2 linked regions of the Homo sapiens genome follow. The protein of the gene in region 1 purifies or fractionates together with the protein of each later gene. This does not show direct contact. Each region holds a gene or a part of one and is shown on either strand. Other genes may lie near its edges. The genes, in order: CSF1R and PTDSS2.

Region 1 (3,500 bases):
CCATCACTCTCCTCTTTACAATGACCTCCCAATAGGTTAAGATGCAGTTATTCTTTCTCACTTTAAGACACCTTTACCTCCGGCTTCTGCCACCTCCTCTGCTCCCCTGTGGCCACTCCTCACACCACTCCACATCCCAGCTGTTGTCAAGTTCTTTCAGTGTTCCAAATGATCTATGTTCTCTTTGCCTTTGAGCCTTGCATATGTTCCTCCCTCTGCCAGAAGCGCTGTTCCCCTTCCTTTCCCACCCTTCTGCCCGGCCAACTCACCTTCATTCTTCCCATCCCAGTTTAGAGGCCACCTTCTCGAAGCCTGGGTTGGGGGGACTCTTCAGTGTTCCCAGGACACCTTGTGCTTCCCCCATAATCACTGGGTGATCATTGTCTTTTCATGTTTCCATAAAGGAATGCATGAAAGAATGAACAAATGAAGTCCAGTAGGGAGCTACTGGACCCCAATCCCCAAATAAACAAAAAATGGCACTAAGGTGCACCCAATGCAGCCATGCACTGTAAGAGCTCCAAGATGGGAGAGAGATCCCAGGAGAGGGTAAGGGAAAGCTCCTGGAGAGTGGCTCCTTAGCCAGGCCTTGGATAAACAAACTCCAGCAGAGATATCCTCAGCAGGTCTCCTTCCCTGACATCAGCTTCCTCCTCAAAACCCTTCTGCTCACACTCCTGCAGGATCCCTACCGACTGTCCACCACCACCCTGATGCTTACCTACCACCCGGAAGAACATGGAGGTGGAGTGCTTGCCCTGCACGTTGCTGGCCACGCAGGAGTAGTTGCCGGCATGTTGGAAATCTACTTGATCGAGGTTGAGGGTCAGGACTTTTTGGTAACGGTTATTATGAAAGTCAGATTGTTGAGGGATTGCGAGCTGCAGCCAGAAGGAATGGAGATGTTATACCAAGGTAGTTTAGGGATTAGAAAGATCTGGGTTCCAATCCTCAGCCTTTAAGGATTACTATCTGCCTTTCCTCTGAGCCTGTTGCTTCACTTGTAAAATGGGGCTAATACTGGCTCCCTGCCCCAAGACTGTAGTGAGGAGTAAATGAGATATGCATGCAAGTGGCTTAGGGCTGTGTCTGGAACACGGCAGGTGCAGTGGGAAGGGAGGGGGCTCTTAGAGGCAGCCCAACGTGAGTCCCTCCTGGAATCCTCCCTCCTCCTCCCTCTCTCCCAATGTCTTTCTGAAATAGCTGTTATATTCCTGGGCTTCAATGGTGGCCTAGGAAACCCTTGCTAAATCAGAAGTGAGCTCACCTCTGGCTTTTGTCTAAAGGCTGGGGCAAAGGCCATGTGTCAAGGTGACAGAGAACCACCTCCCCCCACCCACCCCCACAAAGTTCAGCGGCACAAGCATGAGTCCTGATTCTGTGTCAGCTACTGACTGGGAGTGAGATCTCGGGTGAGTCTGCACCCCTCTCTGGAGTCTGAGCTGTGCCTTCAGCTAAGACAGCCAGTTTGGAGTTGGGGGCCCAGGACTCCACCATGGGAAACCTGGTGTGCTGGGAGGATGGCCAGACTTCACCTTGTGATCTGCAGGGACTGACCTTGGTGTTGTTGTGTTGGAGGAAGACATCAAAGTTAACATCAACGCTGCTGGCTGAGCACACGATCTGGGCAGCCTCCCCTCGAATCCGCACCAGCTCTGCAGGCACCAGTGTCAAGGCTGGGGGCCCTGGGATGACTGAGACCGGGGGAGAGACCCCTGAACACCCAGGCTCCCTGAACATGATAGAGATATTGCTCTCCTCCCTGCCATGGGCCAGGACACACAGGCCAGGGTCCCCATCACTGCCCCATCCCAAATCCTGGGAGGCAGCCTTGATGCTCCCAGTCCCCCCACTGCAAGGCCTGTCCTAAAGAGACCTTGGAAAGTCTACTTTCTCCATCACCTCTACCCCTCCCCAGTCCCGTCACCATTCTCCACTCTGGACTTCTGCACCAGCCTCCTCAGAGACCTCCCTGCCTCCCTCCAAGCCCCCCACACCTAGATTCTTCACTAAAGTGACCTCTTACAAATATAAATGGGACCATGCCTCTCTCCTCTGTAAACATTTGGGGCTTCCCATTACTCTCAGAAAAGAAGTCAAAGTCCTTCCACAGCCCAACCTGTTTCTGACCGCCCTGATAACCCCACCCCTTGTTCACTGCACTGCAGCCCGCTGGACCTCTTTCCTACCACAGGGCCTTTGCACCCACCTTTCCCTCCTGGAATGCCTTTCCTCCCACACTTCAAATGGGAGGCTGTTCTCATCCTTCAGATCTTTAGCTCAAAAATTCCTCAGCAAGGCTTCTGTGACCAGCTGATATGAATTAGCCTCCCCAGCACCTCCATGCCCGCCACTCCCCAGCTTGGTTTCTTGCTCATCACATTTGTATTTACTTTCTATTTAATAGTTAGACTCTAGTCGAATGTCAAATCCGTGACAGGAATATTCCAGCAGCCAGCAAGATGCCTGATGCACAGTAGGCCTTGAATTCATATTTATGCCCATTGCTGCTGTTGAAAGATAATCTAATCCAGATTCCTAAGGCCCAGGGACATGAAAGGACTCACCCAAGGTCCCTGAGGGGGTGTCAAGGCAGAACTAGGGCCCAGGACCTTTGGCTCTTGGCCAGCCCAGGGCTCTGCAGGATGAAATGCCAGGAAAGAGCCCTAATGGCCTCCTCTGCCCACACAGCTGGGGTCCTTTGACCCCCTGGGCAGGTTTAGTGGCTTCAGATCCCAGTGGCATTGGGCTAGCTGCTTCACTCTGACCCTGGCCCTTGTTACAGGGACTGATTGCTGTCTCAAGCCCAGGTCCTCAGGCTGGGGTCCTGCTTGCTCTCACCAGTCCTCCCAGAAACCAGAATCCTGCCTGCCATCCCAGCAGGGTGAGACTCCACCTCCACTGTTACCTGGCCACCGCGAGAGCCATCACACGCACCCACCATCTCCTCCCTGCCTCTTGGCTCAGCATCCCTCCTACACATGCCCAGCACTTGGCCTTAGGCAGGCCCCCAGTGGGAAATCCATGTCTGAGGCTGAGCTTCCGTCCTCTTTCCATACCTAGAACATTCAGAGCCTGTCCCCACCTCACCACTTGGTACTCACTGTCCCCCTGCTGAAGCAGATCTTTGCACAGCCACCTTCTTCATGTCATTCAGATTTCCGCTCTAATAAAGTGTTTCCTTCTCAGTGAGGCTCCCCGCCCTACACACTCCTTATTCAGCTACCATGTTGAATGTTTATTTTTGTAGCATGTCCAATGACTTGAGATGACCTTGCCCACTGAGTTATTTGCTCACATGTGGTTTGTCTCCCTGCCCCGACACCTTGTCAGTCCTGCCCCATAGATGATCGTGGAACCATTGAGGGGAAGAAGTGAAAGAAAGAGGACATCCCACTGCCCCCCATCACACCCAGTCCCCAGTCACCACCCATGTGGCCGCCGGCTCTCTGTCCCCACTCTTCAGGCCTGGCTGCCGGTCCCCATGCCCCACGCACCTT
Region 2 (4,128 bases), on another chromosome or scaffold:
CTCCATCTCAAAAAAATAGTGGCTCAAGCTGGGCATGGTGGCTCACGCCTGTAATCCCAGCTCTCAGGGAGGCAGAGGCAGGAGGATCACTTGAACCCAGGAGTTCGAGATCTGCCTGGGCAATATAGCGAGACCCCGTTCTCCACAAAAAGGAAGGAAAGAAAAAGAAAAAAAAACATAAAAATAGTGGCCCGAGAAGGCGGCTGCCCCTCCCCAGGAATCCTGTGTCCACTGCCCAGTGTCTGCCAGCCTGGGACAAACACAGCACCCCAGGAATCCTGTGTCCACTGCCCAGTGTCTGCCAGCCTGGGACAAACACAGCACCCCAGGAATCCTGTGTCCACTGCCCAGTGTCTGCCAGCCTGGGACAAACACAGCACCCCAGGAATCCTGTGTCCACTGCCCAGTGTCTGCCAGCCTGGGACAAACACAGCACCCCAGGAATCCTGTGTCCACTGCCCAGTGTCTGCCAGCCTGGGACAAACACAGTACCCCAGGAATCCTGTGTCCACTGCCCAGTGGCCGCCAGCCCTTGGACAAGCGCAGCAGAGGGTGGGTGCCACCTGGACCCTCCTGGAGAATGGGAGAGGGGCTGCATCTGGCACCTGCTCTCTCTGGGGGGTGGGGCGGGGCAGGCGCCAAGTCTTTGCTCAGGTGCAGAGGCTGAGTGCCTCCTGTCCTCTGTGTGGTTTTCCCCAAGTGGGCACTGGGCATGAGGGCAGGCTGGAGGGCTGCACTGGACCCCAAAGCAGGACACGGGGAGCTGGGGGGAGGGCTGGAAGCCTCAGACGTTCGTTGTCACTTTATTGGTTCTCTTTGCTCGTGAAGATGACCCTCACCTTGGAGCCACGGAGGCAGCATGACCCCAGCACCCGGGTTCCAGGCCCCCTTGAGGGGCAGCTCAGTGATCTCTGACCCCATCATCCACGTGTCCTCCGGGGTGGTCTGTGTGAAAGGAAGGCTCGGAGGAGGTGGCTCAGCATCGCTGCCTGGATCCGCTGCCTCTCAGCCACGGAGTGTTTGTGGACGAGCGCCCACACGAGCTGCGGGGGAAGTGGATGTGGAGCCAGTGTAGACGCCTCCAGGCCTCAGCGCACCCAGGGCCCACGGAGTGCAGAAAGGGTACCGAGATGTCCCTGCCTGGACCACACCATGGCTGGGTGACAGGGAGCTTGGTGGGCCAGAGGCCACGGGGCTGACCAGGCAGAAAGGGGAGGGAGGACCCTGGTTCCTGAGGGACACACTGCCCCAGAGCATGCCCTTGCCACGCCAGCCAGCTCCCAGCTCTGGAGAAGCCTCGGAGCCCAGAGCACACGTGCACACCACAGGCGGCCACGCATGTGTACACACGCGCGTACACACGCGTACACACACGCATACACACGTACACACGTGTACACATGGAGATGAGGCTGTGCTGGGGCCTCCTCCACCCCTCGCCTTCAGCCTCGCCAGGTGCACAGGAGAAAAGCAAAAAACCTTGAGGGCAAGGCCGGGCACGTGGCTCCTGGTGGGACTCACACAGGAGGAGGCCACGGAGGCCTGGGCTCTGGGAGGCTCACGAGGCAGCCACGGCCCAGGTCAGTTTGGAGTTGGTGCTCCCTCGCCCTCGGCCACCCCAGGCCCCAGCAGGTCTTCGTCCAGCCCCAGTGGGTGCTGGTCCCCGTTGCCGACGGTGCTGCCCTGGTCATCCTTGTTCTGCCACTTCTGCCACCGGGTCTCCTTGTACCTCAATGTGATGTCCCTGGGGAGCGGGATGCAGCGTCACCACCTGCCCCCACACCAGCCCCACTGCAGGCCCCATGGACAGCTGGCACCTAGTCCCTGTGGAGGTCCGGAATGGACTGGGTGGGTGCCGGGTACCCTGGCCCTGGGACGGCAGCCGTGGCAGACTGGAGCCCTGAGGAGCCTGGATCTGTCAGTGCAGAGCGAAGGCCCCGAGGGCTGGGTCAGGAAAGGCGCCTCCCGCAGAGGCGGCCAGAGGGTTGAAGCAGGGACAGTGAGACACCAACGACACCAAACTCCCACAGTGCCTGTGCCAAGGGACCCGGACAGCGGCCCTCCTTCAGAACATACGCGCCCTGCCCTGACTCACCGCAGGAAGAAGCGCCAGACGGTCCAGGTGAGCGCCAGGACGGAGCCGAGGGTCCAGCACTGGGAGATGTAGAAGGGCAGGGACAGGGTGAGCGTGTGGGGGTCGTACTTCACCACGATGAGCAGCTCCGTGGCCGTGATGGCCGCCACCAGCCAGGCCTGCGGGCCCAGCTTCTTGTGGGGCTTCCTGCAGGGGCAGCAGGGGGTTCAGCGTCCCGGGCCCCGCAGGGTCCTCCAGGCGGACTTGCCCAGGCTCCGGCCTCCCAGGCTCTGCTCCCCAGCCCTCCGGCCCCTGCCCCCCGGGGGTGTCTCCACCCGGACTGCCGCAGCCCTCACGGGTCATCCATGAAGTCGTAGATCTCACGCATGGCCACGCCACCCACGTTCACGAAGAAGACGAGCCGCAGGAGGACCAGGTAGTGCTCCGGGGGCATCCACAGCACAAACTTCAGGTAGAACGTGTTCAGTTCTGCCAACAGGAACTAGGGGAGGAGAGGGTGAGCACCAGCTCTGGCCCCCCGCCCGCCGCGCCGTCGCGAGGCAGCCCGGCCTTACCACCAGGATGATGCCGCACACGGCCAGCCAGCGACGCAGGCTGGAGGCCGGCTTCCACTCGAAGCGAACCCAGCTGTACGGCGTGAACTGGAAGGCGATCCTCTTCATCTTGCCCCTGGGAACCACAGAGCCGGCAGCCTGAGGAAGGCAGCCCACCGAACCCTGCCCTGTGCCATCGGGCAACAGACTGTTCCTGGTCACCCGGCCCCGCCCTGTGCCATCGGACGAGCTCTGCTCTTGGTCACCCCGCCCCGCCCTGTGCCATCGGGCCACAGACTCTGTTCCTGGTTACCCAGCTGCTGCCCGGCTGTTCTCCGAGGTCTGGCCACCCAGCTACAAGCCCTGCTTCTCCACGGCCCTCTGCTGTTCAGTCTCTTCCAGCTTGAGCAGTGGCTGCAGCGCCTCAGAGGGCGCTCCACGGTGCCGTGAGCTAGCCATGTCTGCAGAGCCAGGCAGAGCCGGGGCACCCACAGGCAGGAGGGGAGACCCCCGTCCCCCAGGCCTTTCCTTAGACTTCTGTTTCTTTTTTAAATTCCAAAGTCATAATGACAAAGTACCTGCAACTATTTCATAACCAAAGCAACCAAGGGAGGGAGAAGCACGGAATGATCCCACAGCCCCTGCGCCAGGCCGGCCAGGGATTGAGGAGGGAGGTACGTGGGTCAGACGCCATGGCCACTGTGAGGGGCGGCCGGGCTTGAGTGACACCAGGTCAGAGGGAGGTTCCAGGAGGCAAAGCCCCACGGTCACCCCTCCTGAGCCGCACACTGGACGGGCCTGGTGCTCGGGGTCTGCTGGAGCACGGACGCTGAGGCTGCCTCCAGGTAACCCCCACCCGGCCCTGCCCTCGCAGCCCCCACGACGTACTTGTAGGTCGGAATGTTCCAGAGGCCCTGCCACTTGTACGTCTTCAGGGACAGCCACTCAAGGGTCTTCATGCCGCAGTAGATGCCCAGCCCGTTGCAGACGAGCACGTCCATGATCCACTGCAGGGAGGGGCCAGCACTCGTTGCAGGGGTGAGGGGTAACGAGCCCCCCGAGGAGGACCCCGGAAGAGCACAGGGGAACCGAGAATGCCCCTCAGCCTGCACCCACTGCCCCCCGGGGAGAATGAGGGGGTCCAGGGGCCGCGCTGGGCACAGGGGTTCCGAGAATGCCCCTCAGCCTGCACCGACTGCCCCGGGGGCTGTGCTGGCACCTACGTGATCCCACCAGCACTCGCTGAAGTTGGGCAGCTGGTGCTCCAGGCTGTACTCCAGGAACTCGAACATCACGCTGATGATCATGCACATCCACCAGTCTCGGATCATCAGGGTCTGTGGGCGCCAGGGTCAGCCAGAGTATGGGACGCCGGCCACACCCGGCCCTGCCCACGGGTGCGTGCAGCCCCCACCCCGGCTGGCAGCCAGAGTATGGGACGCCGGCCACGCCCGGCCCTGCCCACGGGTGCGTGCAGCCCCCACCCGGCTGGCAGCCAGA

The links.
Region 2: the proteins of CSF1R (region 1) and PTDSS2 fractionate together in Homo sapiens (co-fractionation; one large-scale study listed by BioGRID). This does not show direct contact.

Annotation. Positions count from the first base shown.
Region 1 is NC_000005.10:150,076,555-150,080,054, forward strand, and holds part of CSF1R (macrophage colony-stimulating factor 1 receptor isoform a precursor), read right to left. Parts: coding exon 3,498-3,500; intron 1,695-3,497; coding exon 1,558-1,694; intron 882-1,557; coding exon 722-881; intron 1-721. UniProt on the Homo sapiens protein: Tyrosine-protein kinase that acts as a cell-surface receptor for CSF1 and IL34 and plays an essential role in the regulation of survival, proliferation and differentiation of hematopoietic precursor cells, especially mononuclear phagocytes, such as macrophages and monocytes.
Region 2 is NC_000011.10:488,036-492,163, reverse strand, and holds the end of PTDSS2 (phosphatidylserine synthase 2), read right to left. Parts: intron 3,966-4,128; coding exon 3,852-3,965; intron 3,636-3,851; coding exon 3,517-3,635; intron 2,765-3,516; coding exon 2,650-2,764; intron 2,577-2,649; coding exon 2,431-2,576; intron 2,282-2,430; coding exon 2,096-2,281; intron 1,745-2,095; coding exon 1,582-1,744; 3' UTR 765-1,581; downstream 1-764. UniProt on the Homo sapiens protein: Catalyzes a base-exchange reaction in which the polar head group of phosphatidylethanolamine (PE) or phosphatidylcholine (PC) is replaced by L-serine. Catalyzes the conversion of phosphatatidylethanolamine and does not act on phosphatidylcholine.